2 linked regions of the Homo sapiens genome follow. The protein of the gene in region 1 interacts with the protein of each later gene in a pairwise test. Each region holds a gene or a part of one and is shown in the gene's direction. Other genes may lie near its edges.

Region 1 (16,803 bases):
GCCCTAGGTAAGATGAGGTGAACCAAGGGAGAGACTCAAGGCAGGGTAGGCTCCCTACGTTGGGCTGCACCCGGAAGCGAGAAGGAGAGGCTGATAACGGGGCTGGCCCAGGCTGGGGATAACCACAAGGCAGGAAGACTCGGGGCCAGCAGCTAGCCAGCCCACACCTCCTCTCCACCTCACCCTGGGGAGAGCCCCCAGGGGAGAGCAGGGCAGCCCCCGCCCCCTCACCTGTGACTGCGCTGCTGTACAATTCATTTTCCTCCATGCAGGGCCGGCTCTGCTTTCCCTCTGGCCCCGAGAGCTCCTTCCTCTGCCCCTAGGGAGGAGGCGCCCCGTCTCATCACCTTCCCCGATCCCCAGGCCCCCCTCTGGCCCAGGCCTTCTTTCAGGCCACCTCAACCTGCTGGCTCTGTCTGCACACTGGGTTCGGGTCCCCCCACATGGAGGAAGCACCCCATCACCCTGACCTTGACACCTGTAACACTTGCCCACAGGAAGTATCTAACACCCTCGGCCTGCACGCCCCCTTGCCCTTTCCGCACCCCGCGCGACTCACGGGGAAGGCCAGGAGGCAGATGGCCTGCACCCAGTCGCCGCGCTCCGCTGCAGGGGCCGCCAGGAGGTACAGGCGCTCCTTGGTCTCCAGGAAGAAGGCACTGGTGTCCCGGGGGCTGCTGGCCTCTCCGCCGGCCTCGGCCACCCGCAGGCAGTCACTGAGGCGGATGACCTTCCGGGCAGCCTCACACCGACGAGGCTTCTCCGGGCCCTCCTGCAGCTCCAGCCGGGCCAAGGCGCAGTCCGACCCTCCATACAGTGAGGCGCCGAAGCGGCGCCATTTCTGTGCCAGAGGCGTGGGAGGCGGGGGCGGGAGGGAGCCACCCAGAGACGGGGAGATCGTGAGCCAAGGGGAGAAGAGGAACCGTGGGAGGGGGACTGGGGCAGCCACTTGGAGATGGGGAGAGAGAGGTGAAGATCACATGAGACCCAGGGAGGCAGAGAAGAGGACAGTGACTGCAGGAATTAGAAAATCGGAGATCAGCCGCCAGCCCCGAGAAGGAGGCCCACGAGCAAGAGCAGAGACTGCCCAGGCAGAAAGCAACGCCGGGATGAGCCCAAAGCAGGCTGCAAGAAGGCCAAACAGGCCCACCGCAGTGGACTCCAGTCTGGGGAGGAAAGCGGGGCAGTGGCCGAGGCCCAGAGGAGGGAGTGAGGAGGGCGGCGTGTGACCCGGGCTGGAGACCTCATTCTCCTTCTGTGCGAAATCCTGAAGGAGAACTTCTCTCCACCCTCCTGAACCTTGCTGCCTCATTCCTTGATAGGTTGGGCCATGAGAGAGAGACAGGTGTGCCCCCCAGTGTTGGTTAGGGGACGAGGACTTCCTGGTTCAAGGAGGCCAGGGAAGGGGAAAGAGGATGGACAGCCGGCTGGGGTCCAGGCCCCCAGAGGCCCCAGCCCAAGCTGAACACCAGCCACATGCACCCCACTGGGGTTGGGAAGGAACCTCTATTGTCATCCTAAACTGTCCCTCCAGCTGCCCCTTCCATTCCCTTCCAAGGTGTCCGGTGAAAAGAAGTCAACATAGAGCAAGAGAGCAAAAGAGGCAAGAGATGAAAGCAGCACATCCCCCACCCCCACCCAGGGCAAACAGCCCTCAGTAAGGAGCACAGTTTGGGACCTGGTTGGGGCCTGGTTCAGGAGACAGCGTCGGGTAGGAAAAGAGCCCTCCCAAAGTTGAGCTCTGGGTCTAACTTGGTGGGTGCACAGTCAGACCTATAAGGGTTTTGAATATGAAACTCCCTCTCCAACCCAGGAATTCTAGCAGCCTCCCAGGCCCCCTGCCCAACCCCAGCCCAGCCTCACTCCTACCTTTCCAAACGTCTGCTGCTGCTGAAGATACAAGAAGCCTTGTTTCACTGCCCCGTCTCCCATCCTCTGACCATCTCGGAGCCCCAGGCTTCAGCTCTCTCCTTCACTCCTGCCCTTGCCTCTCTCTTCTTAGCCGTGTGTTTCCCTTCTCTGAAGTTCATTTCCTCTCTGCCTAGGGTTTTCTATACTATTCTAGTCTGCTCGATGACGACAGGCTGATAGGCCCTGCGGTTTCTTCTGAGTGTGTGTTCTTTTTTTTCTTTTTTTTTTTTTTTTCTGAGTGAGTTTTATACTCAAGCTTCCTGCATTTCCAGTGAGTTAGAGACAATTTCCAAAAAGCTAAATGCCAGCTCTTCAGTGAGCAACAATTCAGGTACAGAAGTTGGCACAGGGAGGCGCCAGCAAAGAGTGGCTGGCCCACTGGAACAGAGACCCAGAAACCAAACTAGACAGTGAAATCAGTAGTGAAGGCCCCCCCCTCCAAGCTGTACGCAAGTTGGAAGGGACAAACCACTAAGTTACAAATAAGGAAACAGGCTTGGAAAGTCTGAGGGATTTATTCAAGGTCACCAAACCAGAACCCAGGTCTCTCAACGCTTAACAGCTGAATGACACACACGGCACTGCACAGAGAGACACATAAGACAGCTCATGTGGGCCTAACCAGATACCAGTTTCACAAACACACACACACAGAGAGAGAGAGAGAGAGAGAGGCAACCGTTTAACTACATGCGAGCACTCCCTGTCTGCCAACAACACACACTCACACCAACCCTGTAAAGATTCTAGAAAGATGATCATCCCCTCTGGAGAAGGGACTGACTCCCCAAGTACATCTCAACTGTTGGATTTTTGCCTTCTTGCAAGCATTCCTGAGCATTAGAAAGATGCTTAGGTTTCATCTGCAAATTATCTTAAGTTTCAATAGCAATCACTTTCATATACATTTTGAAAATGGTTCAGAGTTACCGAAAGTGCTTCGTAGCTCGCAAAGCTTCTAGGCACACACTTTTCATCAGCCACGCCATCCTTTGACAAAGGCAGGGCAGGTATGAACACACTTATTTGCAACTTGCCTGAGGTCACAGAGGTAGTTGGGGGCAGAGGAAGAAGTAGAGACCAGGGCTCCTGATCTTTAATTCAACATTTTGCAGGGCCCCTAAATGGAATCCAGATCCATGCAAAAAGATCCATTGCTGTGGGGAAATCCAAGCTGCTCAGAGAAGTTTAACTTAAAGCCAGATGGTTTAGAGAAGCAATCTGTATGGAGGCACAGTGCAGAAGGGTTGGAAAAAACTGAGACTCAGACCAACACTCTTGGGGTTAATCCCATAACAGGTGCTTATATAAACAGGCCCATTTCCTCTACAACAGGGGTTCAGTTACCGTGGCAAGGAGCGAGCAGCACCGTGCACAGCTTAGGCCTTCTGCTGTACATGCCATGGACTGGACCAAATAAGCTTGAAAAAAATGAATGTCATGAGCTCTGTGAGGACAAGGATGAGTCACTTCAAACTCACTGCCCTCAGCCGTGATGCCTGGGTTTGAAGAGGTTGATCCAAAGCTCAAGGGAGAACCAAGCATACTGTTTTGGGAAAAGCACACCTTGGGAAGTGGTTAGGGGTATGGAAATGGGATGTGACCTAATCTTCCTCTTTAGTCCCTAAGGAGAGTCAACTCTGCCTGGGAGCTGCATGGTCTTTGGTGCAGGGAGTGAGAAGAGGAGGGCTTTATGGCCATCTTAGGGGCTGCCAGAGCAGTGCCTTCCAAACTGTAACATGTAGATCTTGTTCAAAGTAGACTCCAATAAAGTAGGTCTGGAATGAGCCCTGAGATGCTGCCGGTGGTGGGTGGGTCAAAGCACACTGAGTAGCAAGGTGACAGAGGATGTCCCCTGCTAACCTGATCGCCTTCCCTGAAGGCAAAATGGACACATTCCACTCAGAACCACAGGGGGGCACCCAAGTTTACCAGATTACTTGAAAGTTGTTTAAACCCGGAGGCCTGAACCCCAGGCAATCCAGACACTCCCTTGTCATCCCTTGCTTATGGAAGCTGGAGGAGTTCTCCGGTAGCCGTTGACTGCAGAAGATAGGGCAGCAGAGTATATACCAAGAGCAACACCCTTGCAGTCCTTCTAGGCCCCTTCAACTGTCCCTAGCAGGATTTGTGGCGACCCTGATGTAGAAGCACTAACCCCAGTACCTTCTGCCTAGCCATGGGGAAACCCTGTAAACAGGAGCCCAGAGACATTGCTCCAAGACACAGCAGAAGCGCACAGAATGAGAAGCCCTTAGGGTCCACAGGCACCAATGATGTGTAGAAAAAGCACTGTAAAGGAGTTGAGGGTGCCTCTTGGCTTGTCTTTGTTTTTACGGGAAAGGAAAAGGCACTCCAAACCCCACCTGTGGCTCATTCTAAGCCACTGGGATCCTGTCCCTTACAACAGTTTCTCTCAGCAGGAGTCAGGAACCACAGCTCCAAGAAATTTTCATTACTATTCTGCTGCAGTGATTAGCAACCCAATCCTAACATAAGAGGGCTGGGACCTTGTCTTTGGGGCAACAAAGGAAGGAGGAGAGGAGACTGTGTCTGACTCCTTGGGCCGGCTTGGGGATTAGGTAACCCTCAAATGATGTGCAGGTAGGGAAGCTAGCTAAGGGGTAGTTCTGGGCACACAACAGGTAAGTACGTATAGGATAGGCAGAGAACTGATGTGGGCCTGAGACGGGTGAAGGACTGAGCGAAAGAATTAGTGAGCGTGTATTCTGAAGGACCCCATCCCTGCCCCTTCCACCCCCAGTGGTCCCTGACTGTGGGGTGTGGGAGGGGGACAATGCCAGTCTCTTGAGCTTCATTTGTAGCCCCCCACCCTTTCTCCATTAAGTCTATCACTTTTCTCAGTACTAAGGAAAGAGAGAACCCAGTTCTAGAAACCCGCTGAGAGGAAGGGCCTATAACATAACATAACATAACATAACATAACATAACATAACATAACATAACATAACATGTTACCTAACAGTGACATAATATTTAGAATGCTTTATGTCTTCATATGAAACCCACATGCACCCTAGAATGAGACATAAAGAAGTTAATACATTCAACAGTTTTTTAAATTTATTTTTATTTATTTTTTGAGATGGAGTCTTACTCTGTTGTCCAGGCTGTAATGCAGTGGCACGATCTCGGCTCACTGCAACCTCCGTCTCCTGGGTTCCAGCCATTCTCCTGCCTCAGCCTCCTGAGTAGCTGGGATTACAGGCGCACACCACCATGCCTGGCTAATTTTTTGTATTTTTAGTATAGACGGGGTTTCACCATGTTGGCCAGGCTGCTCTCAAACTCCTGACCTCAGGTGATCCACCCCCCTCAGCCTCCCAAAGTGCTGGGATTAAAGGTGTGAGCCACCATGCCCCGCCTCAACAATTATTTACTGAGCATCTACTCTGTGCAGAGGTACTAGGGATACAACATAGACAGAATCCTTGTTTATACTATGTCTGCTTTTAGTTGGAGGGACTGATAATGAAAGAGTAATAATATGTAGTTTTGGACAGTGATCAATGCTGTGATAGTGATAGGCACAGGGGACAACTTTCAAGAGGGTGGTGAGAAAAGGCTCTCTGAGAGGTGACAAGTGAGCTGAAAAGTCCATGAGGAGAGTGAGCCAGCCATTTCACGATCTGAAGGGAAACCAATCCAGGCAGAAGTTACTGCAAGTGCAAAGGCCCTGAGGCAGGAGATCCTGGCTTTGCAGAACTGCAAGGCCAGAATGACCACAGAGCATTGAGCCAGAGGGGGCATGGTAGAGTGAGGTCAGCTCATACGACCTCTTGAGCCACAGCAAAGATTCGAATTCTAAATGCAACATGAGGCCACTTAAGGATTTTAAGTAGGAGTGTAAATTATCTGAATTATGATTTTAAAGGAATGTTCTGGCCAGGCGCAGTGGCTCACACCTGTAATCCCAGCACTTTGGGAGGCAGAGGCGAGTGGATAACCTGAGGTCAGCAGTTCCAGACCAGCTTGGCCAACGTGGTGAAACCCTGTCTCTACTAAAAATCCAAAAATTAGCCAGGTATGGTGGTGGGCGCATGTAATCTCAGCTACTTGGGAGGCTAAGGCAAGAGAATCGCTTGAACCAGGGAGGCGGAGGTTGCAGTGAGCAGAGATGGCGCCATTGCACTCCAGCCTCGGCAACAGAGCAAGACTCTGTCTCAAAAAATAACAAATAAATAAAATAATGTTCTGCAGCGTCCAGCTATATGGAAAATGGGTTATCAAGGGGCAAGACAGGAAGCAGGGAAACTAATTAGGAATCTATTACCAGAGCACAGGAGAAAGGTAATGGTGGCTTGGACCAAGGTGTTAACAGTGGAGATGGATGGAGAAGTGGTCATATTGGGTATATATTAGATATAGATTGAACAGGACTTGCAGGTGACTTGCATGTTGGGGACTGATAAGACTTGAAGAACCAACTCCTGAGTGTTTATTAGGAGCAACTGGATGAATGGTGGTACCATTTACTGAGGAAGGGAAGACACAGGGAGAAACACGGGGAGGTTGGGGTGCGGGGGTGGGGGAAGGGAGGGTGGACAGAAATTTGGGCCTGGCCCACTGTGAAACTGTTACCTCTATTCAGTCCAGTAGGGAATCCAAAGAATTTCCATTGCAATTGTGACTCTGAGAATATTTCATTGCCCGATGCCAGGTTCAGAAAGCCACTGACCCCATCACCCCGCCTCTTTATACGCTCGGAGCTAATGATTGGACGCTGGGAGGTTTTGGGGAAAAACAAAAACCCAACATCTGAAAAGGTCTATGCTCGCTAGAAGTTAACAGTCAAAAGCTCTGCCACTTAAATCTTCTGCCTCTTAAATCTTCTCTGAGTCAGCCTAATTGGCAGAGCCTAATTTGCATACAGAACCCTAGCTGCAAGGAAGTTTGGGTAATGTAGTTTCCAGGTGCCCTACCTCTGCAAACCAGGAAGACCTACTAGGAGGACGGAAGTCGAAATGAATGCTGAGCACCGGTCCACTACATCCACCAAGGGTGTGTAATTCACTACCACCATCATTTGCATATGATGGTAGTCCCCTGTAAATACAAACTTCAAACAATCAGTGCTCTCAGAATCCAGCTATGATCTAACCTGGGGGCCTTAAAAGGAAGCCACAGTGGAATCCAATGGAAAACAGGAACCGGCATTATCTAACAGATAATTCCTAGTGAGGAAGACTGGAATTGGCCTCAGCATGCAGGGGCTGACCTTATCTGACCCAGAGAGATGGCTTTCCCACTCATACCTCCACAAGACCGAGCCTAGGGGTCCTAACCACCAGCCCCGCTGCCTCTTCCAGCATCTGACCCTCTCGGGAGGCAGTCTAGAGTATTGGCAACGAGGACAATGTCTTTGGGAAGCCAGAACTGTGCCTTCGTATGTTTTGATCATCACCACCATTCGGTGGTTATTTCCATGAATGTTTATCAAGGACGAAAGGACAGAAATGAAAAACACGAGATCAACCACTGGGGTTGCTGGTGAAATCCAGACCAGAGAGCGATGGCCCTGGTCCAGAAAGCTAGACAGACACAAGCACAGAATCGGCCCCCGTTGAGTAGAGGGCATTGGAAAGTAAGGAATCTCGCAGGCAGCCTAGGTGGGGTGTGGGGGGTCCCCGTAGCTGCAGGGTGGGGTGGGGGTGGGGGTGGGAGACGTCCAGGGGCGAGTCAAGGGGGAAGACGGTTGGGAAGAGAGGAAGCCACTGGGTGCAGGGGTCCCGGGGCGGCGACAGACCTCGGCCCCCATCCAGGAGCCCTCACCACGCAAACGAGCAGAAGGCAGCGCCAACTCCCACTCCAGCGCCCGCCTGCCGGAGCGAGCGCGGCCCCTTTAAAAACCATGTAAACAAAGCTTTGTTCCCCCAGCTGCCCCTCCTTCGCGCTCCCCCGGCCCGCTCCTTCCTCCCACCCGGCGTCTCCGGGCCGCTGACGTTGCCCGCGCCTTTACGCCGTCCCAGCGGTGCTGCGCATTCTCCAACCACGGCCCGGGCCGCCGGGGCCTGCGCAGCTGAGCGGCGCTACGCCACGAGCGCAGCGCGACGAGTCCCCAGCGCGCAGGCGCAGCGGCGACGGCGTCGGCGGCGGCGGCGGCAGCGGCTCCGGCCGAGGTGCGCGCTGGGGGGGAGGGGGGGCCGGAGAGGAGCATGAATGGAGCAAAATGGCGGATCATGTGCAGGTGAGAGGAGCCGCGGGGGGGAGGGGGCGACCACGAAGAGCGGCGAGTGGAGTCGGGGGTGCACACGGCCCACAGGGCGCCAGCCGGCTCGGGACTCGGCAGGCCCGCGCCGCCGCCACTCGGGGCTCTGGAGCCGCCGCCCGTCCCGGAGCCCCGGGGCCTTTCCCGCCTCCCGGGCCGGGGGCCTTCTCCGTCCCCTCCCACCCGGTCCCACACCTCGCGCGCGGGGCTGCAGGGACAGGAACGGGCATCCCGGCGCGCGCAGCCCACAACGTTCGTCAGTCACTGTCTTCGTCCCCGGGGGAGGCCTCCGTCAAGTCCTCGGGCCCCCCCGCCCGCCCCCCGGTGAAGCGAGGGGGACCCCCTTGCTGACTTTACTGAGGGGGACGCCCCCATGACGCCCGCCATCCCTCAGCAGATAACAAAAAGGAAACCTCGCGCTGATAAACCTCGCTCTCCGGAGTCTTTCCCGCCGCCTTCCTCTCACGCCCCGGAATACGAGAGACCCCCCAGCAACCCCGGCCTCCTTCCCCCTCCCACGGATGCGCCCTTCCCTCCGACACTCCAAATCGTACAGCCCGGAGGGCCGAGCTCCCCGGTCTTCCAAAATGGGTGCTCAGGCCTCGGCCCGCCTCCCCTCGCGTCCCCCTAGCCACAGTGAAGGAGTTGAGCGCCCACACCTCCTATGAAACACGGGGTGGAGGGGGGTGTGTCTGAAATGAGAGATGCAGGGTTGGGTGCAGACGTTGCTCGGGAGGGTCTTGATCCGGCTCAAGAGCTGCTCCTAGCGTGCTGTGGGGCCAGGCCACTCTCCTCAAAGACAGGCACAGGCCCTAGAAAGGGACAGCCCATACCAAACCCAGTAGCAGATGGAGGACTGCAGGGTTTAATTTCTTGCAAACTAGATAAAGTTTTTCCTGTCTGTGCCAGAGATCTGATATTTTTATGACAGTTATTGATGCACATCCATTGTGGGGAACCTTCCAATTTTCTAGGTAACCAAGTGCACAGGTTTTGTGTTGTGGCAAGGAAAGATTAGAGGGCAAGAAGTGTCGCCTTTATATTCTGTGGCATCATTCCTCAAGTAAGAAGAATGATCTCATTCTTAATACGTCTACAAGAATCTGGAGTGGTGTGACTTCTGCCCCTTTCTTTGGAGAGAAGGGACTAAATAAAAGACTTAATTTTCAGGCCAGAGATCAGTAAAGTAGATCTTCGGAGTGTGCGGGACAAGTTGTCAGGACAGAATTATAGCAAGAAACGTAATCACAGGTGGAAAACCACGGGATTTGTGTTTCAAAGCCAGTACCTTGGCTTAATTCAGAAGTGACAGTAAAAGTTGATACAAGGAGATGATAATAATGATAATAATAATAGTATAGCACCTTGCGTTTTATAGCAGTCATTTCTAAGAAGCATGAAATATTTTATGTGATTTTTAAAAATTCTTGGATCTTACAAGACTCAGGCAGGAATTACTTCTGTCATTTAAAGGAACAAAAACCAAAGCACAAGAATGATAATGAGATTTGGTTAAGGTAAGTCTAAGTGTCCCAAAGTCTTTGGAGTTTGGGTCCAGTGCGCTTCCTTACTGGGGGTTGGGGGGATGTCTATGAGCATTCTAGAACAGGCTTTGAATAGATAGCCTTTGTGAACCATGCTTCGGAATGCAGAGGGAGTCAGTACTTTTATGAATATACATCGTGCTATTTGCTGTTTCCCGTAAAGAAATATCTCTTAATGTGATCTCCCACATTTTCGAAGCATAAAGGTTGTCATTCCTGTGAAAGTCAGGATGCATCAAAGCAATCTTCACAGCATTTGTCGCTCCAACGAAGGTCTGTCTTATTTTTAGTAAGATGTTGTTCTCCCACTCACCACTCAAAAATCTACGGAAGTAAGAATTTATTAACTTTTCAAAACAAAGGGGAGCATGTTGATCAGTGTTTTATTGGTACCCTTTATTTACTTTTAAGAGCTGCAATCTGTTGGTCTAAATTAGTGCTTAGTGGTCTTCATATCAACGGGGTAAGTTTGTGAGTGAATTTTTTTCCCTTTAGAGAGAATGGGACATACTGCTTTTCTTTGTCAGACCACTAAGTGTTAATAGTATTGGGCACTCACAGATGTTAAGGTGGTACTTTATTGTGGCAGAAAACCTTCTTATGAAAAAGATACACGCTTCCCTAGGTATAATGAGTAAATAAAGGATTCATTAAAGACAGTCTGCAATGCATTGAGGGGAGGGTGGCGGGGATATTTTTCTTATAACACTAATCAAACGTGAAGTTTATAAAGGTGTCTGCTACAGATTCATGACTGATTATTGGAGAGTTGCATTTGTTGAACTAAATAGTCGAGTCATTATGTTATCTAGTGCTTTTCTGAACCACCAGGGTGAGCAGTTTTTTCATAATTGAGGCTGAGTGTCATATGATTCTCGGGTTCTCTCAGGCTGATGTCTTGGATATCTCTCTTCTAAGGATATGTATTTTATGGACGATTTTAAGTGCTATAAAACTTTAGTAATGGGAAAATTATAATATTTGGATTGCCCTTTAGCTCTGTTGATGTTACAGGCAAGTGTCTGTAGAAGTGTGCCCTTAAGCAGCTCCTCGATGTGATGGGTTTCTTACTCTTGGTCTTAGATAACCTTATCTAACTTTCACCCTGAAGGCAGGGTGGTTACAAAGCTTTGCGTGGGAGAAAAAAATCAAACTTACTTATGTGTGTTTAATTATGTTTAGTTGCCCTTCCTTTCATGTTTTTTTTAACATATCTAAAGCTGGTAAGTTATCGCAAAGAGATGAAGACAACGCTCAGTGAACAGTGGTGATGAAGAAGATTAAGAAGGATCAGATGTTAGTTTTAATAGTGCTAGCTGGTGTTCAGGAGCTCGAGAGGAAAAGGAAGGAAAGAATATGATTTATATATCGAATATGCTATTTAATATGAATTATATTAGTTTTACCATAAATAATGGAAATGAAGACTGATTCCAGGATTTTGCTGGAATTACTACGTTGTTGTGTTGGGTCTTATTATTTACTGGGCTTTGCATTATGACTGTACTAGGAGAATGTACTATTTGCAAAGTAGTCATAGTTTGTTTTAAATTCCAGGCACAGTAATTAAATATTGACTACCAGTGTAACTCCAGGGAGTTGTGAAGAATCATTACAACTTGTCAGGTTAAATTTTAGCAGGGTGCAAAAAGTCGGCCTGATTATAGCAAAAGTGATGGTTGTTTTTTCAGCTTTTAACAATATGCAAGGAAATGATAAGTGCTATGGGTAGTCCATTTTGAAAAGGGAGTTCCGTACAACTTTTGAGAATTTTAAATGGAAAAAACATAACTTTTCTAACTTTTTTCCAGTTCGACTAATACCAGAATGCTTAGTGTGTGCAAGGCCCTTTCTGTGCTGGGCACTTCAGAGGATTCAGAATGAGAAAGACACTGGAGCCAGACTGCTGAAATATCCAATTCTGATGCTCTTTTGGCAGGCTTCAGGAGCACACACGTAGATACAAGAAAGAATACATTGATTTCAAAACATGCTACATCTGTGTTGGGTGATAAGCAATAACTATATCCCATCACCCACTCCCACCCTGATTATACCTCTTTCGTGGGTTTATACAAATAATATGTGTGTATTTTATTTCATTATTTTACTCCTATTCAACACCACACTGGAAATGTCTGTATTTAAAACATATATATCTATATATTTACTTGATTACTCTGACTTTAGTATATTTCCTGAGAAGCCTTGAGAAAAATTAAGGGATGTATATATACGTGTGGGATCATTCAAACACTTAACACAGAAAAAACAAAATACAGTACAGTGATGGAAGAATCTCTAATTTAGATGAAGGTATAGAAAGAAGTATCAGGAAGATCCCTGTTCTATATCTTACAGAGAAATTAGCTTCCATTTGACCCAGAAATTGATGTTCATAACCACCAGCTGTATTTTCTTTTTTCTTGGTTGGGTTTTGAAAGCAATATTGTACCACAGCCTTTCGAGGTGGGAAAGTTGCCAGTTTAAACCAATAAGCTAATGTCTCTCTGTAGGTACAACTACTGAGGCTACTTTGCCCACTTCAGTATGTGCAAGGAAGATAGTGTTTTGAAACTGCATCTTTTTAAAACACCTAACATTATCTCACATTTTCTCAGGGTTAGGAATCTGGGAGTGGCTTAACTAGATGGTTTTGGTTCAGGGTCTCATTTGCAGTCAAACTCTCAGCTGGGGCTCCGGGCTGCAGTCAATCTCAGGGCTTGACTTGAGGATAGAGAATTTTCTTTAGGTTTACACACAGCGGGCCTGGTCAGGCCTCAGTTCCTCACTGGCTGTTGTCTGGAGGCTGCAGTTCTTTACCAATGGGCCTCTCCTAGTGCATCATTTTTAAGGACTTCATTAAATTCTGTAATGATATATGCTGTGTATAAGTGACCCATCTTTGTTATTTTTTTCAAAAACTTTTTATTGAAATATATACCTGCAGACAGGTACAGAAATCATATGTGTTCAGCTTGATGAATTTTCACAAAGTGAATACTCCTTACTAACCAGCACCCAAATCAAGTCAGTATTATCGGTGCCCCAGAAGTCCCCTGATACCATCTCAACAGCTACCTGTAGCCCCCCTCCCCCCCCCACCCCACTAACTACTATCCTGTCATTTTATTTTTAAATCTGCTTTTAGAACTCAAGCTGAGTAACCTGAGAGTTTTAGCTTCAAAGCCAGGGGGAGAAGCAGTACAGAGCAGTGATTATACAGCTTTGGGGGGATTTATTTCATAATATGATGGAAGCTATGTTACTGCTCTCTGGTGGGGGTGGGGAGAGTGTGCCTACACAAAATTTTACCCACAATTTTAGGCCATTCATGAACCTTGATAACTAGAGTTTAAATATATGTTTCTTTTTAGATGAAAATGCTCACAACATTTTATTGAGAAACTGATTTACAAGTATTTCTCTTTTGACTTATTTGAAAAGCAAGTTCAGGACCACGATAAATGTTCCTGGAGAGTTACATGCAAGCTGAATTTTTAAATATTGAAATAAATTCTTGAGGATGATTAATGGTGACCACTTAAGCATCTACTAATATCCCATTTTTGTTACTGTGCAGACACATAGAAGGAAATACAAGATGTGATATTCTACTTCCAGGGCCTTACATTGAATTGAGCATCACAACAAGCCTGGTCATTGAGTTGTGAATTTGTAGTGAGACTGGTTTTGTCGACATGTCCCTGAATGGGGGGCAGTCACTACCCCGTTATCTTTTCCCCCATTCCAATACATGTCTGGAATACATTCATTCCTAACATTTATAGTGACTCATTACTAGGAAATTCTCAATGGAATGGGATTGGTACCCAGGAGGCATATCAAAATCTTGGGGGAGGGAGAGAGTTGTAAAAAACCTAGATCCTAAGTATTTCTGATATTTGCTTCAATGGCTGTTCACCCCTTCGCACATGTGTGCATGCACACAAGGACACACACACACTCCTACTGCCATAAAATGGGAAGGATGTATTTAAGAGAAGGCAGAATTGGAAACTTCATGCTAGCATTAATTGATATCATTTAATGCTCACCGCAGCAATGTAACATCGGTATAGAGATAATAGTAATAGAATTTTCCTTGAAATAAGCTGATTAAAAGACCTGGTATCCCTGGAAGACTGGAGAACTCGCTGTTGGAAGATTTAGATGATGTTCATGGTGGTGGTTATTGTAAGACTTACTGGAGTGTGACTTGGTTGGTCATAGGGAAAGGGGGATACCAGTATTAACTGAGTGTCTGTTATATGCCAGGCACCATGCTAAGCCTTTTATAGTGTTATGCCATTTAATTGGGAAACTCGTTTGGTCTCTGAGCCTGGATTAAGTGATCTGTGAAGTCCCTTGTACTTCAAGCATTCTGGATGGGATTTCCAGTTGTCATCCTTGTATTCTCTCCCCAATATAGCACCGTGTTCTCAATTCATATGTACATGTTTGTAAAATTCCTTAAAATATTTATGCTCAAACCAACATTTCCATTTTATCTATCTTAAATATATCTTCCTCTTCTTTACGCCTAATTTCTTAAACTCCCAGAGTTTTTTTCTGTAAGATCTAGTCATCTGTAGCACTTCTCACAAATTGAGCTCTCTTATGCCCCAAACAGTAACGAAAGAGGTCTCTTAGTTGGACAATAAGCAGTGAAAGATATTTCTTATGGGACAAGAAATTAACATTATTAGTCAAATGTTGATGCCGGTAGGCTGAGAAATGATTCTCACTTAAAAGCCCCTGGGTTTTAAACCTCTCTTAGAAAAACATTAGTTAGATGAAAAAAAAAATCAAAATATTTTCCTCTGGAAAACAATGTTCCTCTGAAAACAAGCAGATTATTAAAATATCCCTTGTACTACTTCAGGAAATTGTAATCTTATAACTGTAGTGGCCTTTTAGCTTTTAAATATATGAACTTGAGTTGGACACATGCTGATCTCATTGGTACTTTGCATGATAAGAAATTATGATATTTACAATGTGCAGTCTCAGAAAGAACTGAGAGTTTTGCTAGACATTTGCCCTAAAGTTTGAGTCAATTTATGGTTTAAAGGGGTGTATTTAAGGCTAGAAAAGGGAAATGAAGGGTTTTCTTAGGATTTTTTCCAATTCTATTTAAAATTGTTTGCAAAGTTTTGAAAGCATATGTCATGAGTTTGGCAAAAATTATTTCAAAGCTTGTTTTTTTTTTAACCTCATTCACCTCTGCTAACTCCTGAACTTCAGTGCTTTACTTCTGTCTTCCAAAAAGACGTTGTCTAAAATTAGTCATGAAATTTAACTTAACTGTAAGAACTTGAAACATAAAGTTTGCTCTGAAAAAGATCTGGGAAACCTGATGTATATTTCACATATCAATACATCTGTTGATGTATTGATAAAATCTATACATCTCAGTTGAAAAAAAATCTAAATTTTGCCCAATATATAGCCACAAATTATTTAGAATGTAATGTTCGTGTTAGTAGGTGATATTTTTGTCTTCAGCTTGTCATTGACCCATCTAAGGATCCCTGCGAGGTCTTGTCAAAAACTAGCCTGGGGCATACCCAAGAATTTTAAAGATTAAATAAAACTTACTGGAAAATGTGACCTTGTTTTCCTTAGTCTTAATATTTTGAACTGATAATGTTCCAGAACTGAGCAACTTTCTTCAGGCCTTCATAAAACCAAATTAAATTGTTTTTAGGTGAATTGAACCTGAGCAACAGGGAGTATTTAAGGACAGGCCAGGCAGGGGCACACATGCTTGTAGTCCCAGCTACTGGGGGGGAGGCTAAGCTGGGAGGATCACTTGGGTACAGGAGTTCAAGTCCAGCCTGGGTAACATAGCAAGACCCCAAGTCTTTTAAAAAAAATTAATTAATTAATTTAAATTAAATTCAAATAAAATAAGGACATTATCCCACAGGTGTTACAAATGAAAATTTGTTGTAATGTAAAGGATTATTTACTAGTTCTTGGAATTCTACAGTTAGCCACACTCCATACAGGGAGAGCAGAATGTTGTGAGCAAGAAGTTTTAATTTCACAGAATTCCTAAAACCTGTCCATTCAGAGCTGTTTGGTTTAGGTTACTGTTAATGTACCCTAGAGGTTCCCAAAGGCACATTTCGTGTTAACATTGATAGCATTGATAGGGTGAGACTTAAAAAAAACCAACCTTTTTTTTTTTTTTTTTTTTTCTTAAGATGGAGTTTTGCTCTTGTTGCCCAGGCTGGAGTGCAGTGGCGCAATCTCGGCTCACGGCAACCTCTGCCTCCCGGGTTCAAGCAGTTCTCCTGCCTCAGCCTCCCAAGTAGCTGGGATTACAGGCATGCACCACCACGCCCAGCTAATTTTGTATTTTTAGTAGAGACGGAGTTTCTCCATGTTGGTCCGACTGGTCTTGAGCTCCCGACCTCAGGTGATCCTCCTGTCTCGGCCTCCCAAAGTGCTGGGATTACAGGCGTGAGCCACCGCACCTGGCTGACCCAACTTCTTATCTATTCCTCCCATACCCGTCCCCTCAAATGTAAACAGCACTCACAAAAGTGGATATTTGGTTCATAGAGATTACTGTTGTGTAAATCTGTTGCCAGTGGAATAAAATCTTTCCTTTTTACTAAAATTTTATTCGTACAGTAAACTGCATCCATTTAAAGTGTACAAATTGACAGATACATACACCTGTGACTCCGGGATCAAAATATGGAACATTTCCTCTTTGCAGTCTGTTCCTCCCTCAGCTCTCAGACCCACACAACCCTGTTCTGCTTTCTGTCACTATAAATTAGTTTGCATTTTCTGGAATTTTATATAATGGACTTACTGTATACTCTTGTTTTCTGACTTCTTTCACTCAGCATAGTAACTCTGAGATTGATTCTCATTGTTGCATAGTAGGAGTGCTTGGTTACTTTTCATTGTTGCCAAGTATTCCGTTGTATGAATATATCACATTGGATGTATCCATTCACTCTTTGGGAGACATTCAGGTTGTTCCCAGTTTTTAGTCATTGTGAATAAAGATGCTGTGAATATTCATATACCAGTCTCTGTATGGATGTACATTTTTATTTCTCTTGAGTACCTGGGAGTAGGATGGCTGAGTCTTAT
Region 2 (16,713 bases), on another chromosome or scaffold:
AGAGGCCAAACAGAAGACTTCTCTTCTTTGCCTCTTTGTACTTACAATCTTCTCATCTTCCATCCCTCTGCCCATGGACTCCTAAGCTACTGGCAGAAAATTATGTCCACACCCAACTACCTCTCCTTTTCCCAAACCACCTGCCTATGCCAGTTCTGGACCCTCCACATAACATCTGCAGGTTACTGAGCCCATCCTGATTATCTCCCTAGTGTATTTGTCAATCACAGGCCATTGGCATCTTAAAGTCAACTTCATTAAAAAACTGGAATTATGGCCGGGCATGGTGACTCATGCCTGTAATCTCAGCACTTTGGGAGGTTGAGGCGGGTGGGTCTCCAGGAGTTTGAGAGCAGCCTGGGCAAGACGGTGAAACCCCATCTCTACAATAAAATAAAATAAAAATTAGCTGGGTGTGGTAGTGCACACCTGTAGTCCCAGCTACGCAGGAGGCTGAGATGGGAGGATCGCTTGAGCCTGGGAGAAGGGGGTTGCAGAGAGGGGACCTTGGAAGTGTGGGCTGACTTTGGAAAGTTTTGGTCCAGGTCAGCTACCATCTGCTGGCCTGGAGGCCCAGTCTGATCTCAAGAGACAACTCTGTCACTCCCTCCTGCCACAAATACTTGCTTGGGGCATAGCCTCAGGCAAATGACAGAGATCAGCTGCCAACTACTCTAAAATCATAGCTTGCTGGGAAGTTGGCAATGACTCCATTAAAATCATCTTAAGCTTACATGGAATCTTGGCATCACCCAATGCGAACTTCAAAGGCTTTGGTCTAGCTATTGAATGGGACAGTAAAGACTGCAACCCTACCCTGGCTATTCAGGACATACTTGTTCAGCTGGCTTGAGGTGTTGGGGGAGAGACAATGGTGTTGGGAGGTAACAGTCAAATTCTCCACAAGAAACAGTGCTAGGGCCTGGATCTGATAAACTTGTCCCTCGATAAACAGTTTTATAAAAAGTCCTTTGGCCAGGCGTGGTGGCTCATGCCTGTAATCCCAGCACTTTGGGAGGCTGAGGCGGGTGGGTCACGAGGTAAGGAGATCAAGACCATCCTGGCCAACATGGTGAAACCCCGTCTCTACTAAAAATACAAAAATTAGCTGGGTGTGCTGGCACGCACCTATAATCCCAGCTACTTGGGAGGCTGAGGCAGAATAGCTTGAACCTGGGAGGCAGAGATTGTAGTGAGCCAAGGTAGCATCACTGCACTCCAGCCTGGAGACAGAATGAGACTCCGTCGCAAAAAAAAAATTACAAATAAAATAAATAAATAAATAAAAATAAAAAGTCCTTTGGAAATGAAAATGGGATTTCCTAATTTAGGTGTTTCTTCTTTCTTTCTTTCTTTTTTTTTTTTAGGTGTTTCATAAGTAATTCTGCTTATTGTATTTTCTTAAAAATGGAAACACACCTGGGTTATACTTTCTTTAAAAAAAGGGTATAGATTTGCTTGCTGATTTAAGTACAATGCAATGTCAAATTACGTTTATTAAATAATGTAACATGATCTTTTGAATCTTTGCAGAGAGGCAGAACTTATGCTAGCATACACTAGTGATAAGGCTGGAAAAATAATTTCAAAAAAAACTGGCAAGCAGTTTAAGTACGTTAGGGGATACAGTGAGCATGTATTGTTTTTCTTATCCTGATAAACATTCTCCTGGCATACTATTCCAGATTTCCTAGGAGAAATGTGAATGTCCCTGTTCCCCAGCTCCTATGCCATATGCTTTGAGATGAGATGAAGACTTCTACTCCTTGCTTTAGAGGTGGGAATGTGACTCAAGGCCAATCAGAACATCTCAAACCTTAAACTACAGGAATTAGCTCACCACATAGGCATGCGACCCTATCAGGTAAAATGAGTCACAAGGAGACTTTTGCTGGGACTCTTAGGAGAGAGGTTGGGAGTCTTTGATGAACTTGGGCCTAGGATACTAGGACTATAGGTCCTGGCAGCCATCTTGCCCCGCATGGAGCTAGAGAAAAAAAAACAAAAACAGTTAAGGAGAGCAGAGTCCAGAAATAGTGAAAACCCAGATAACAGGGAAATTGGCTTGATACCCCAGATTAAGCCTCATCTGAAGTAACAGACTTCTCAGTAACATGAGCTAGTAGGGCTGGAGTTGAAGACTTACAGGGTAATATCTTTAAACGTTCAGTTGTTAAGAAATTGATAATACCGTGGCTCACGCCTGTAATCCCAGCACTTTGGGAGGCCGAGGCGGGCGGATCACGAGGTCAGGAGATCGAGACCATCCCGGCTAAAACGGTGAAACCCCGTCTCTACTAAAAATACAAAAAATTAGCCGGGCTTAGTGGCGGGCGCCTGTAGTCCCAGCTACTTGGGAGGCTGAGGCAGGAGAATGGTGTGAACCCGGGAGGCGGAGCTTGCAGTGAGCCGAGATCCCGCCACTGCACTCCAGCCTGGGCGACAGAGCAAGACTCCGTCTCAAAAAAAAAAAAAAAAAAAAGAAATTGATAATACCGAAGATGATCAGGGTCTCCACTCTAATCATTATTGAGTACTTACTATGTTTCAAGTACTAAGTAATATGAACGTTACAGATATTATCTAATAAAATCCCAAAAACAACCACAGGAGGCAACAATTACCATTCCTTTAAAAAAAAGTAAAGCAGGAACTCTGGGCTCTATAGCATGTGAGACACCTCAACTATTCCAAGTCCTTACCTTGGTCTCATTTCTTTTTTGAGACGGAGTTTCGCTCTTGTTGCGCAGGCTGGAGGGCAATGGCAAGATCCTGGCTCACTGCAACCTCCGCCTCCCAGTTTAAGCGATTCTCCTGCCTCAGCCTCCCGAGTAGCTAGGATTACAGGCATGCACCACCACGCTCGGCTAATTCTGTATTTTTAGTAGAGACGGGATTTCTCCATGTTGGTCAGGCTGGTCTCAAGCTCCCGACCTCAGGTGATCCACCCGCCTCGGCCTCCCAAAGTGCTGGGATTACAAGGGTGAGTTACCGTGCCCGGCCTGGTCTCATTTCTTATCTCCTGAGAGAGGTAGCTGTCCAACATTTTAGCCTCTGAATCTTTTTGTTCAAGCGAAACAGGAAGTATAAACAAATGAAACCAATCAAATGGAGCAGGATGGGGGGGCCCAGAACCCTTTTTTTTTTTTGAGAAAGGGTCTCACTCCGTCACCTGGGCTGGAGTGCAGTGGCACAATCTTGACTCACTGCAACTTCAAGCAATTCTCATGCCTCAGCCTCCTGCGCATAGCTGGAATGATAGGCCACCACGCCCAGCTACCAAAACCTTCTTTCTTGGACTCTCCTCTCCCAAGGATTTCCTAAGGCTTTTAAAAATATTTTGAGGGCGCCGGGCGCGGTGGCTCATGCCTGTAATCCCAGCACTCTGGGAGGCCGAGGCGGGCGGATCACGAGATGAGGAGATCGAGACCACGGAGAAACTCCGTCTCTACCAAAAATACAAAAAATTAGCCGGGCGCGGTGGCGGGCGCCTGTAGTCCCAGCTACTCCAGAGGCTGAGGCAGGAGAATGGCATGAACCCAGGAGGCAGAGCTTGCAGTGAGCTGAGATCGCGTCACTGCACTCCAGCCTGGGCAACAGAGCGAGACTCCGTCTCAAAAAAAAAAAAAAAAATATTTTGAGGGCTAGGCGCGGTGGCTCACGCACTTTGAGAGGCTGAGGCAGGCGGATCATAAGGTCAGGAGATCGAGGCCATCCTAACTAACACGGTGAAAACCTGTCTCTACTAAAAATACAAAAAATTAGCCAGGCATGGTGGCATGTGCCTCTATTCCCAGCTACTTGGAAGGCTGAGGCAGGAGAATCGCTTGAACCCGGGAGGCCGAGGTTGCAGTGAGCCGAGATCGCGCCACTACACTCCAGCCTGGGTGACAGAGCGAGGCTCCATCTCAAAATAAATAAATAAATAAATAAATAAATAAATAAATAAATAAATAAAAATATTTTGAAGCCTGGGGCAGTTGGCTCACACCTGCAATCCCAGTATTTTGGGAGGCTGAGGCAGGAGAATAGCTTGAGGCCGGGAGTTTGACATCAGTCTGGGTAACATAGCAAGACTTCATCTCTACAAAAAAAAAAAAAAAAAAAAAATTAGCCAGGCATGATGGTGTGCACCTGTAGTCCTAGCTACTCAGGAGGCTGAGGCAGGAAGAGCTCTTGAACCCAGGAGTTCCAGGATGTATGTGCCACCACGCCGAGCTAATTTTGTATTTTTAGTAGACAACGGGGTTTCTCCATGTTGGTCAGGCTGGTCTGGAACTCCCAACTTCAGGTGATCCGTCCACCTCAGCCTCCCAAAGTGCTGGGATTACAGGCGTGAGCCACCTCGCCCAGCCTCAACTAGTCTTTTTTTTTTTTTTTTGGGACAGGGTCTCACTCCATCCTCCCAGCTGGAATGCAGTGGCACAATCATGGCTCAATGCAGCCTTGATCTCCCAGGCTCCAGCGATCCTCCCACACCCTCCCAAGTAAGTGGGACTACTGGCTGGGAATACAGGCGCATGCCACCATGCTCAGCTAATATTTTATTTTTTGTAGAGACAGGGTTTTGCCACATTGCCCAGGCTGGTGTTGAACTCCTGAGCTTAAATGATCCTCCCACCTTGGCCTCCCAAAGTGCTGGGATTATAGCCATGAGCTACGTCTTTAAAAACCTATATACGATACTGAAGGGGCTTATAACCTACCAAAATAATAAATAAATAAAAACCTATATATGATAGATTTCAAATACAAATGATCATTTATATTTATCCTCCCAAGCAGGCATAGACAACATTCCACCTTACTACCACCCCAACTAAAAAACAATCTTATGCAATTATATTTCGTTGTTTTTGCGAGTTTTCCACTAGAAAGTTAAGTGGGCCACTGAAAAAAGCAATTTGAAAAAATGAATTTCAAACCAATGAATTTTGTTCGTTGATCTATTGTCAGGTTTGGTTTAGAAAAAGATCACTCTTAATTTTGATTATATGTATTTTAATGATTCATAGGACTCTTATCCTGAATGCTTAGATTTATGAAAGCCAGAAGTATTAACAGTGCAAGTCAGGCCGTCACAATTTGTTCAAGTTTTCTCTTCCTTTATTAACTCAGGTAGTTCCTGAGCATCTACCATATTAAAGGAATTATACTAGATGATTAAAGGATGCAAACAGGAATACAACACAGTCCCTGACTTTTCTCCCTCTACAAAATCAGTAGAAGTGGATTAATATGTAACTCTTCCTCTGAAATAAGGAGTCTATTTCATGGTTGTTCTGTAGTGACAATGCCTCGGGGATCCCACCTTCATCACCTTTGCACCCAACTGTCCATCACTCCTGTGCAGGGGATGCTGCTGGGGAAGAAAACAGGTCAAATGCAGGGAAAATTCATAGTAAGCTGTTACTACTACACTCACGAAAGTATAGTAACCTACTTTACTCACTGAAGTACAGTAACCTACTGTACCCACCAAAGTTTAAAACAAAACAGGACATTTGACAAGGCTGGTGCCTTTAAACAACTTTGCTAAAATGTCAAGGCACTCTTTTTAATTATTAAATAAGAGGAGTAATAGACATTTGTGGCCCACTCCGTCTATGAGCCTCATTCCTGATGATGGGGTAGAGTGAGTTTCAGGGACAAGGTGAAGTGAGGTTCAGGGAGGGGTGAGGCTTAGGGGCTTAAGTGAAGTTCTTTGCATGCATTTCTTAGTAACAAAAATGCTGAGTAATTTACTGGTTACTTTTTTTAGGCTGCAACAAAATGCTCCCATGGAAAATGTCTACGGTAAAATGTCAAGTGTATAGCTTTAAAGCAGAGGACAATGCTTAGCGCACAGTATTTTTGGCAGTATGACCCCACCATTCTCCAAGTTGCCCAGGCTTAAAATGTTGGCACTAGGAAACACATAGCTTATGATGTCTTCCCTACAATTTCACTTTACAGATTAAAAAAAGGGAACCTCCTCTTAGTATAATATTCATATATTCTTTCAATAATTTATTCATTTATCCATCAATATCACCTTTTATGAGACAGTGGTAAGCAACAGAGATATAAAATGAATAACATAGTCCTGCCCTTAACAGTTTGGTTTAGCAAGCATTTATTCAATGTACACCATATACAGTATCAATAACTGCAAAGTGCTAACATATAGATGTGTACCTACATTTTAGGGAAAGCTTTCAAGAATGATGTCAGAGTTGAGCCTTAAGGAATTAGCAGGAGTTTGCTTGATGAAGAGAAAGGAAGGGAAGGGCATATCCAGGTCTGAGAAAAATGCCCAGAGTATGTGGGGGAGGCAGGAGCTGAAAAAGTAGGCAGGAGCTAAATCATAACAGGCCTGTATGACAAACTAAGGAGTTTGCACTTTATTCTGGACAGAATGGGGAACAACTGGAGGATTTTAAGAGGAATGACATGAACAGATGTTTTGTTGTTGTTAGTCTCACCCAAGGATGGACTGGAGATTGGACTGGAAGGAAGCCAGGGCTGAATGCAGACAAACTAATTAGGAGGCTGTTGCTGTCATCTCAATGAGAAATGATGAGAAGAACATAATCTATGTCACAGGCACAGAGGATGGAGAGCAGAACACCTATTTGAGAAATATTCTATAAATAGAAATGATAGGACATGACTATTGATTGGACATGTGTGGGTGGAAAGCCAGAGTCTAAGATTCTTCCCAGCTTCCTCTGTCTAGCTTAGGCAATTATTTGGACAGTGGTACTACTGAGCACGGCACGCACACAGTAGAAGCAGCATATTGACTTTTTTTCTTTAAGGGAGGCAGGGAAAGATGACGAGTTCAATTTTAAATGCTGAATCTGAGACCTGTGGGGAATCCAAGGGGAGAGGTGCATGAGTCAGTTAGCTAACTAGACCTGTGCTTTTTAGCCTCAAGAAATTTACAAGACTATTCCAGAAGCATGTGTACTGACAACCTCACTGCCAAAGGAACAGGCATACCAATTAGAGAAAATGACAATTTTTCATGTTAAAAAAAAAAAAACTGAAAACACAGGGGTTGAGAGTTAATAACGAAACATTATGTTACTCGCCAAACTGACACAGCAGAACAATGTATTTCTCTAGTAAGCTAAATGTAGGGTTTGATGGGTTTCCTCCTGACGACACTTGAAAATAGAGGTGTACCTGGTGTTTAGATCTAGGAATTCCTTTCAGCAGGTTTGAAGAGCAAGAGCTGAGAAATGCGCCCTCCAGTGGCAGTGGAATGAGGGGTGTCTAGTAACCCTTTTTACCACCAAACAAAGCCCTGTAAAGAAATGCAATTTACCGGGATCAGAAAGCCACAATGCTGGTACCAGTAAACCGTCAAACCAAGCGAACCCTCTCAGGCGCCAGGAAGCCTTACCTGTCACGTTGGCCAAAGGAAAATTTCACTTTCGACTCAACAAAATAAGACCTCAGATTTGATAGCTTGCAGTAAGTCCCGCTTGGCGACGATTAAACACCCTGCAAGTCGAAACGCGTAGTCTAATCAAATCCTCTCCAGCCTGCAGGGCCGGGCTTCCACCACGTGGGTGGCTGCGGCCAGCAGGATCAATCCGCGAAGGGTGGGGGTAGGAGGCGTGCCCCTGCGGTGGGAGGCGGGGTCTGCGCAGTGGGTGGGGCTTCGGCGGAACCTAGCTAAGAGGTTCCTCTCGCCTCCGCTCCCCTTTTGCCTTCAACCTTCGAGCCGCCACGTAATGCCACGTCCCCGCGCATGCGCATCTTGGCCGCTGCTGGCGGCTGTTTCCGGGCTTAGAGGGCTGGAGTGGCCGCCGAGTTGGAGGCGGTGGTGGCAGCAGTAGGAGTGTGTAGAGTGCGGGATTGGGGCCCAGGCCCTGCGGAGGGCGGGGGAAGTTGTCTTCTTTTTTTTCCGGAGGGGCCGGTAAACCTGGTGGCTGAACGGCAAGATGAATTTCCTCCGCGGGGTAATGGGGGGTCAGAGTGCCGGACCCCAGCACACAGAAGCCGAGACGGTGAGAGGAGCAGCGGGTCTGGGACTTGGGAAGGGGTCCGGGCAGGGACGGGGACGGAGCACTCGGAGACCCGAAGGTCACCTCCAGCGTCCCACCATGGAGGGGGCATCCACATGCCGCCTCCCCCTTTGCCCTCCTTCCGCTCCTGAAATCCCAGAGTTATTCAATCACGCCCCCAGCTCAGTCCCCATTGCTGCCGTTCGGCCGGACTGACGGCGGCCGCGCCCCGCAGCTCTGTAGGCCCTGAAGCTCGGGCTAGGAGAGTGGTCCGCAGGTGGTACCGCACGGGAAGGGACGGATGCGCGGCCGAGCTGGCCCGAACTGCCTCCCACGCCCCTCGGGGCCGTGGGCCCCTCCCTCTTTCTCTTTCGCTCGTCTGCACTGGCCGAGAGGAGCCTGAAGTCCTGCTCCCTCCCTCGCAGTCTGAAACTGGGGCGTTGGGGAAAACTGCGAGAAGGTTTAAAACCCAGCTGTTGGTGAGAGCATTTGGCTAAGAATAAAACGATATTCTTTGAAGGACAAATCCACCTGCTCCTGTCCCATCAACTGGAAGAGCGGTCGTTCTGCCTGGTGTTATTTGTTCAGATCCGGCTTTTCGGGCTCACCCAAATATATATCATTTGGCAAATGCTACCTTGAACGTAGTAGGGATCTTAAGCGCTCAAACTGCTTTGGGGACACGTCCACCGCTTTCTGCCTGAACTCCTAATGACATGATTTGCGGCGTTATTTAAAAAAAAAAAAAAATGGTTAGCCGCTGAAAACATTATTTAATAGTTGCTTAGATTCTAGGTTTAGAATACACTTATTTTGAAGTTTGGTTAGTGTTTAATGGAATCGAGGGTGTATGCCTTTTTGAAATAAACTTTTTATTTGAGAAGAATTTTAGATCTACATAAAAGAGACTAAGTATAACACTTTAATGGCTAACTTTGTTAATGGGATCCTGAGGGATAATATAGTAGCTTTCATTTGTCAGGCTCTTACCTTGTGCTAGGTTCTGTGCTGAGCTCTTTATATTCCACATTATGCTTTAATCGTTAACTACCCTGCAAGATAGGTGAGAGTATTCTCACCTTAAAAGTCAAAAAATGAGACTGAGAGGGGTGAAGTAGGCCGGACGCGGTGGCTCACGCCTCTAATCCCAGCACTTTGGGAGGCTGAGGCCGGCGGATCACCTGAGGTCGGGAGTTCGAGACCAGCCTGACCAACATGGAGAAACCCCGTCTCTACTAAAAATACAGAATTAGCCGGCCGTGGTGGCACATGCCTGTAATCCCAGCCACTCGGAAGGCTGAGGCAGGAGAATCGCTTGAACTCGGGAGGCGGAGGTTACGGTGAGCAGAGATCGTGCCATTGCACTCTAGCCTGGGCAACAAGAGCGAAACTCTGTCTCAAAAAAAAAAAAAAAAAAAAGGGGTGAAGTAACTTGACCAATGTCACACTGCTAATAATAGAGCCAGGATTCAACCAAGAGGTACCTTACTTCAAAGCCTTCACTTTATTGCTCATGCCTGTATTTCAATACTTTTTGGGAACTTTATATAGTATTACTAAAATTAACTGCAGCTAGTCGCAGTGACACAGGCCTATAATCCCAGCTAAGGGGATGCTAAGCCAGGAGGATCGCTTGAGCCCAGGAGTTTGAGACTAGCCTGGGCAGCATGAAGAGACTCCATCTCAAAAAAAAAAAAAATAACTGCGCAGGTCTGGTTAGAATTGTTTAAAGCATAAGATGAAAGCCGGTAAATCTGTTTCTTTCATTTGAAAATCACTTTTCTGTCTCTCACTGTAACACACGCACACATTTGGCTTCACTCATCCATTCCCACTTGGCAACAAGGCAGCCTGAGCTACCCTACTAGAAGATCATGTTCTGTCTAGATTACCAGAGTCATACCATAATCACAGCCCACCACTTTTTTGTCTGATATTTGTGTTTGTGGCACCAGGTTATGAAATATGGTTTATTACAGCTTGCTTTGTGGAGTTAGACTTTGATTTGAATCCTGGCTTTCCACCCCTGATTGGATTGGATATGTAAGAGATAGCTAATACCCTCTAAGTAAAATGAGGAAAATGCCTGCTTTTTAGGATGTAATGAAGATTAAGTGAAATAAGTAGAAAGAGCCTGGCACTTAGTAGATGTATAATGAGAGGTAATTTTTACTATGTGTGGGTTGAACGAAGAATACCCTTTCCTGTTTTTGTTATTATTGGCCTTGTCACAGTGACTTCTGTAGAAAAGATGGAATAGAATTCACAGTGTATAGGATTTTAAAGCTAGAAAGTCCCAGATAGAGCCTCTTCATTTTATAGTCACAGAGCACTAAAGTAGCTTGCACAAGGTTGAAGAGTTGGAGCTAGAACATTTTGATCTTGCCACTGTGGATGGAACAACATAGTTTTTATATCACAATTTCAAAGTGAAACTTGAGTATCACTTGCGTATGTTGTATATATAAACTGAAAGGGTCCTTTCTTGTTCTTGCCTAACTTTGAGTATGTACATTTAAAATTGGAAAAGTAATTTGTCTTCTATTTTTTCTTTTTAATCACCTCCACAATAAAGCAATTTGCCTTCTGAAAATTATTATTCTGAGGTACAGTATGAATAAAATTTGTTTCACTATTTCGTTCCACCAGGAAGTACAACAGGTAAAAGGGGTCATGGATTACTAATTTAGAAGTATTTATAGAGCATCAGTGGAGTGTATATACAATTTTAGATGTTTTAATTGATGATTTAGTCTGGCCAGGATATTTGAGTTACCAGAGCTTGGAACCCCTAGCTTCTATATTATCATTTATTATTTTGTAGTTTTTTCCATTTCTGCAAAATTAAATTTTTTTCATGGTGGCTTTCCATCTTTCTTGCTTTTTCTAACATCTTTTTTCCAATGGAAGGGCTCTTTTCTTTGTCTGAATTAGACCTGTTATTTAAATTCATCATCAGCGCCTCCCCTAATCTGTACTTTCCCCCAGCACGTTTCAGATGCTTTTTCCTTTCTGAGCTACCTTTACATTTTAACTACAGTGTGCATATATCTTATTCCTTCTAGACTCTTAAAGTGTCTTTAGGGCAGGGTTCATAATGTATTTTAATCTTTGTTTTTCCACAGTAGTAGATGCCCAGTAAATACTTGTGAAATGAATTAATTATAGTTTTATTTGAAAGAAATCACAGATCTGTAATTATAGCAACTTACGTTACTAGGTACTAAAACACTTTTTAAAGACTAGAAACTGAAGTTCTCAAATGAAGTTCATTGTGTCAAGCTTTTTACTTAAGGGATTTTTTCATATTTACTAAATGCTTTGACTGCTTTCTTGTTTTTTTTTTTCTTATTGAATTTAAGTATCTTTTAAATGTGTGAGAGTTATGTGATTGATTGTATAGTATCTAGCTTTTCATACTCTTAGTTAAGAGTAACTTTGGACTGATATTAAGATGTTCTTCAGGCCGGGGGCTCACGCCTATAATCCCAGCACTTTGGGAGGCCAAGGCAGATGGAGCACTTGAGGTCAGGAGTTTGAGACCAGCCTGGCCAAACTCCTTTCTGGAGTCAAGCACATTTTTATGGTGAAACCCTGTCTCTACTAAAAATACAAAAATTAGCTGGGCATGGTGGCACATGCCTATAATCTCAGCTACTCAGGAGGCTGAGGCAGGAGAATCGAGGCGGTGGTTGGCAGTGAGCAACCACTGAGTGGTTAAGATTGTGCCACTGCATTCCAGCCTGGGCGAGAGAGCGAGACTGTCTCAAAAAGAAAGATGTTCTTGAGAACCTGTCAAGTAGTAAATATTTTATCATAGGATAGTCAATTCTATAAAGTACTGGATATTTTAAATTCAGAATTTCATCCACATTAAACTTTTTCTGTTTTAGAGTCATGTACTTTTGTTTTTGTTTTTGTTTTGTTTTGTTTTGAGACAGAGTCTCGCTCTGTGGCCCAGGCTGGAGTGCAGTGGCGCAATCTTGGCTCACTGCAAGCTCCCCCTCCCGGGTTCACGCCATTCTTCTGCCTCAGCCTCCCAAGTAGCTGGGACTACAGGTGTCTGCCACCACACCGGCTAATTTTTGTATTTTTAGTGGAGATGGGGTTTCACCGTGTTAACCAGGATGGTCTCGATCTCCTGACTTCGTGATCCGCCTGCCTTGGCCTCCCAAAGTGCTGGAATTACAGGTGTGAGCCACGGCACCTGGCCCCAGAGTCGGGTACTTTTACATTTCATTTCTCTTTTTTACTTGACACTGATTTCTGGTGATTGAAGCCTCTTTAGCCTTGACACAGTTTGCTGGGTGCATATTATTATAGTACAAATCCTACTCATGCTTTTGTTTTTTAGTTTTCTCTTTTTCCCTAACCACTAGACCACCAGGGACTTCATGCTTTTGAATGTAAGCTTATGTGTGCTTAGTGTTATATCTGCCTTCTATCTAGCACCTTTTTTTTGGGTAGGGGGGTGGGGTACGAAGTCTCGCTCTGTCGCCCAGGCTGGAGTGCAGTGACGTAATCTCGGCTCACTGCAGCCTCCGCCTCCTGGGTTCAAGCAGTTCTCCTGGCTCAGTCTCCCGAGCAGCTGGGACTACAGGTGCACGCCACCACGCCAGGCTAATTTTTTTGTATTTTAGTAGAGACAGGGTTGCACTGTGATGCCCAGGCTGGTCTTGAACTCCTGAGCTCAGGCAGTCTGCCCGCCTCGGCCTCTCAAAGTGCTAGGATTATAGGCGTGAGCCACTGCGCCCAGCCCCCAACTTGTACCTTTTTTAAAGCTAGTTTCTTGAAAATTCCAAGCAAGTGTTAACTACATTTGATGATGAATCATAGAGGCATTTTCTGTTCTCAAGTTGGACCCCGAGACATGAAAGTTGCTAATGTCCAGAAAAAGCATACAGAATTAGAACATTGTTATGGGGTCTCTTTCCAGATCAAACTTTCATCAGCTGTCTCAGAAAGCAGAAGGGCTAACAATATAAACACAGCCATATTTTCTTTTAATAAAAATTGTTATTAAAGAGTGTGGACTTAAATTTAGACATAGTTTTCGTTTAGTCAAGCACATTTTATACCATGTTACTATAAATGTGTAGTCTGAAATTCCTATTTGGGTTGATGTATTCTACATTAATAACCAGGTCAATGTCATAACTGGAATGTGTTTTCTCTCTTGGCCTGTTTTGCAATAACAATGTCGGAGAGAACTGTAATAATGATTTGTGTTTTGGTCATTTCTATATCGAAGCACTCTTTTTAAGTAGGGCCTATTGAATACTACATGGCTTTTTGGAAGGTTAATTTTGTAGATTATATAGGGTTCATTTAAAAGTTAGAATCATTTAAATTATACATGCCGTAGCATTACCAAGGTATGCTTCAAAAAATTTGAATAGATGTCCATGAAAAAAATTTTGTCAGCAAAGAAGTGTGTGCAACGACCACTAACAAAGAAAAAACCTCTAGTATTTATGCAAGGTTTTGTAAGCAGGCACTGTGTTATAGTTTCAGATATTTTTAAAATGTAGATAAAAAGTAAGCTGTTTGCCAAATTTATCTGACCAGACCTTTTTTTTTCCTCTAGGGAACTTTGTTATCTATTATTTTGAGAAGCATACTTAGGGAAAAATTGTCCAAGAGGATATATAATTCTGATGCCTTTTTCTTTATTTTCCTTTATTTCATTAAAAACATTACTCTTGAATCTGATTAGGAAAGAATATTAGAATTCCTTATATACATTTGTTGATACCAAATACTGTTCCTCTTTCTTTTTATGTATTTACCTTTTATTATTAATATTACTGCTTTGTACTCTGCTTTTTGTCTGTTGTAGGTATAGTAAAGTTATGCTTATTATTTTTATACCTCAAGCAGAAGTGCCATAAACATTTTTTGTGTCAAAAGTTATTCACCATTAATTTGAAAACTTTTTTTTTTTTTTAAAGAGACAGGCTCACAATATGTTGCCCAGGCTGGTCTTGAACTCCTGGCCTCAAACAATCCTCCTGTCAGCTTCCCAAAGTGCTGGGATTACAGAAAAACTTTTGTGGTGTTAGATTTTGAGATGCTAGCATTTGTGATAGGTTATTTGGTAGACATGTTTCATTATGACCCCTTGCTTAAAACGATGTCCTTTTGAAAAGCATAGTTCATTTATGGGAAAGAGCATGGAGAATAAATGAAGCAGTATATTACTTGGCTGACTTAAGGTAACTATAATGGAAATGGATTCATTGGATTTGTCTACAAAGAGACTTGTGTTTGATTTTTTAATGTTCCCACATCTCTTTTTATAGATTATAATAATTTAGGTCATATGAAGATAAGATTTGCTTTTGCTGTTTTAATAAAGTCTTCTCAGTAACAGAGTTAAATTTAAAACAAATTTCTGGGCCAGGCCTGGTGGCTCACGCCTGTAATCCCAGCACTTTGGTAGGCTGAGGCGGGTGGATCACCTGAGGTCAGGAGTTTGAGACCAGCCTGGCCAACATGACGAAACCCTGTCTCTGCTAAAAATACAAAAATTAGCTGGACATGGTGGCAGGTGCCTGTAATCCCAGCTACTAGGGAGGCTGAGGCAGGAGAATCACTTGAACCCACGAGGTGGAGGTTACAATGAGCCAAGATCGCACCACTGCACTCTAGCCTGGGCAATGGAGTGAGACTCCGTCTCAAAAAAAAAAAAAAATGACTTTTGTAATCTAAAACAATAATATTTTTATTTCATCTAAAACATAAGTGAATTGACTATTAGCATGAATTATTTGTCTTACAGTTAGGGAAATTCTGTTTTAGGAAGGTACAACTATGTTTTAAATTTCAAGGTAAGATTATATCATAAAATTAAATCAATATTAGGTGCTTGACAAATATTTGTTGGATAAATGATTGATTGATTAGAGTTAGCATTTTAATTGCCATTCCTGTTCTTTATTTTTTCCTGTCAGTTAAGTAGTTACTGAATACTTAAAAAAAAGAATTGTGAAAAAATACTGCAAGCTGTATTACACTAGTGTCCTTTAATTTTTTTGCTTTTATATTTTTATAAACGATTAAACGTAAATTAGTATTGTTTCATAAGCAAATGTGTTTATGAAAATAAACATTTCTCTAAACAATATTTTTTCCCCATAACTTTAAAGTTTTAGAAGGTTACATGTGCAAGTTGTTACATGGGTAAATTGCCTGTTGCTAAGGTTTGATGTATAACCATCACCCAGGTAGTGAGGATGGTACCTGATGGGTAGTTTCTTAACTCTCGCCCCCTCTCCCACCTTCCCCCCGTTGTTGTCCCCAGTGTTGACTGCTCCCATCTTTAGGTCCGTGCTTACTCATTGTTTAGCTCCCACTTGTAAGTGAGGAAATGCAGTATTTGGTTTTCTGTTCCTATATTAATTCGCTTAGGATAATGGCTACCAGCTGCATCTATGTTGCTGCAAAGGGCATGATTTTATTCTTTTTCATGTCGACATAGTATTCCATGGCATATATGTACTGCATTTTCTTTATCCAGTCCACTATTGATGGACACCTAGGTTGACTCCACATCTTTGCAGTTGTGAATAGTGCTCCAGTGAATATGCAAGTGCATATGGCTTTTTGATAGAATGATTTATTTTTCTTTATTTTCCCTTATTTCATTAAAAACATTATAATTGAAATGACTATTAGCATGGATTATTTTAGTCTTACAATAAATAGTCATAGTTACTGGACGCAGTGGCTCAAGCCTGTAATCCCAGCACTTTGGGAGGCTGAGGCGGGCAGATCACGAGGTGAGGAGATCAAGACCATCCTGGCCAACATGGTGAAACCCCGTCTCTACTAAAAATACAAAAATTAGCTGGGCATGGTGGCACCTGTGCCTGTAATCCCAGCTACTTGGGAAGCTGAGGCAGGAGAATCACTTGAACCAGGGAGTTGGAGGTTGCAGTGAGCCAAGATCGCGCCACTGCACTCCAGCCTGGCGACAGAGCGAGATTCCATCTAAAAAAAAAAAAAAAAAAAAAAGTCATAGTTGGGGGAGTTCTGTTTTAGGAATGTTTTAAGCTTCATGAAGGTAAGGTTATATCATAAAATCACGTCTGTAGGGCCGGGTGCGGTGGCTCATGCCTATAATCTTAGCACTTTGGGAGGCCGAGGCGGGCAGATTACAAGGTCAGGAGTTCGAGACCAGCCTGGCCAATATGGTGAAACCCCGTCTCTACTACAAATACAAAAATTAGCCGGGCGTGGTGGCGGGCACCTGTAGTCCCAGCTACTTGGGAGGCTGAGGCAGGAGAATAGCTTGAACCCAGGAGGCAGAGGTTGCAGTGAGCCGAGATCACGCCACTGCAGTCCAGCCTGGGCAACACAGTGAGACTCTGTCTCAAAAAAAAAATTAAAAAAAATAAATTAAGTCTGTATTAGCTGCATGACAAATATTTGTTGAAAAAATACAGTAGTGAGACTGCTGGGTCGAATGGTAGTTCTGTTTTAAGTTCTTTGAGAGATATCCCAACTGCTCTCTACAGTGACTGAACTAAAATTACATTCCCACCAACAGTATATAGCATTCCCTTTTCTCTATAACCTCTCTAACATCTGTTTTTTGTTTGTTTGTTTTGTCTTTTTAATAATAGTCATTCTGACTGGTGGGAGATGGTATTTCACTGTGGTTTTGACTTGCATTTGTCAGATGATTTAGTGGTGTGGAACATTTTTCCATATA

The links.
Region 2: the proteins of XPO7 (region 1) and USO1 interact in binary tests that used the Homo sapiens proteins (3 or more experiments, as listed by UniProt).

What each region holds. Positions count from the first base shown.
Region 1 is NC_000008.11:21,911,670-21,928,472, forward strand, and holds the start of XPO7 (exportin-7), read left to right. Parts: upstream 1-7,992; 5' UTR 7,993-8,101; coding exon 8,102-8,119; intron 8,120-16,803. Other genes in the region: DOK2 (docking protein 2), read right to left, coding at 232-319, 560-841, 1,870-1,932.
Region 2 is NC_000004.12:75,716,886-75,733,598, forward strand, and holds the start of USO1 (general vesicular transport factor p115), read left to right. Parts: upstream 1-7,691; 5' UTR 7,692-7,934; coding exon 7,935-8,000; intron 8,001-16,713. UniProt on the Homo sapiens protein: General vesicular transport factor required for intercisternal transport in the Golgi stack; it is required for transcytotic fusion and/or subsequent binding of the vesicles to the target membrane.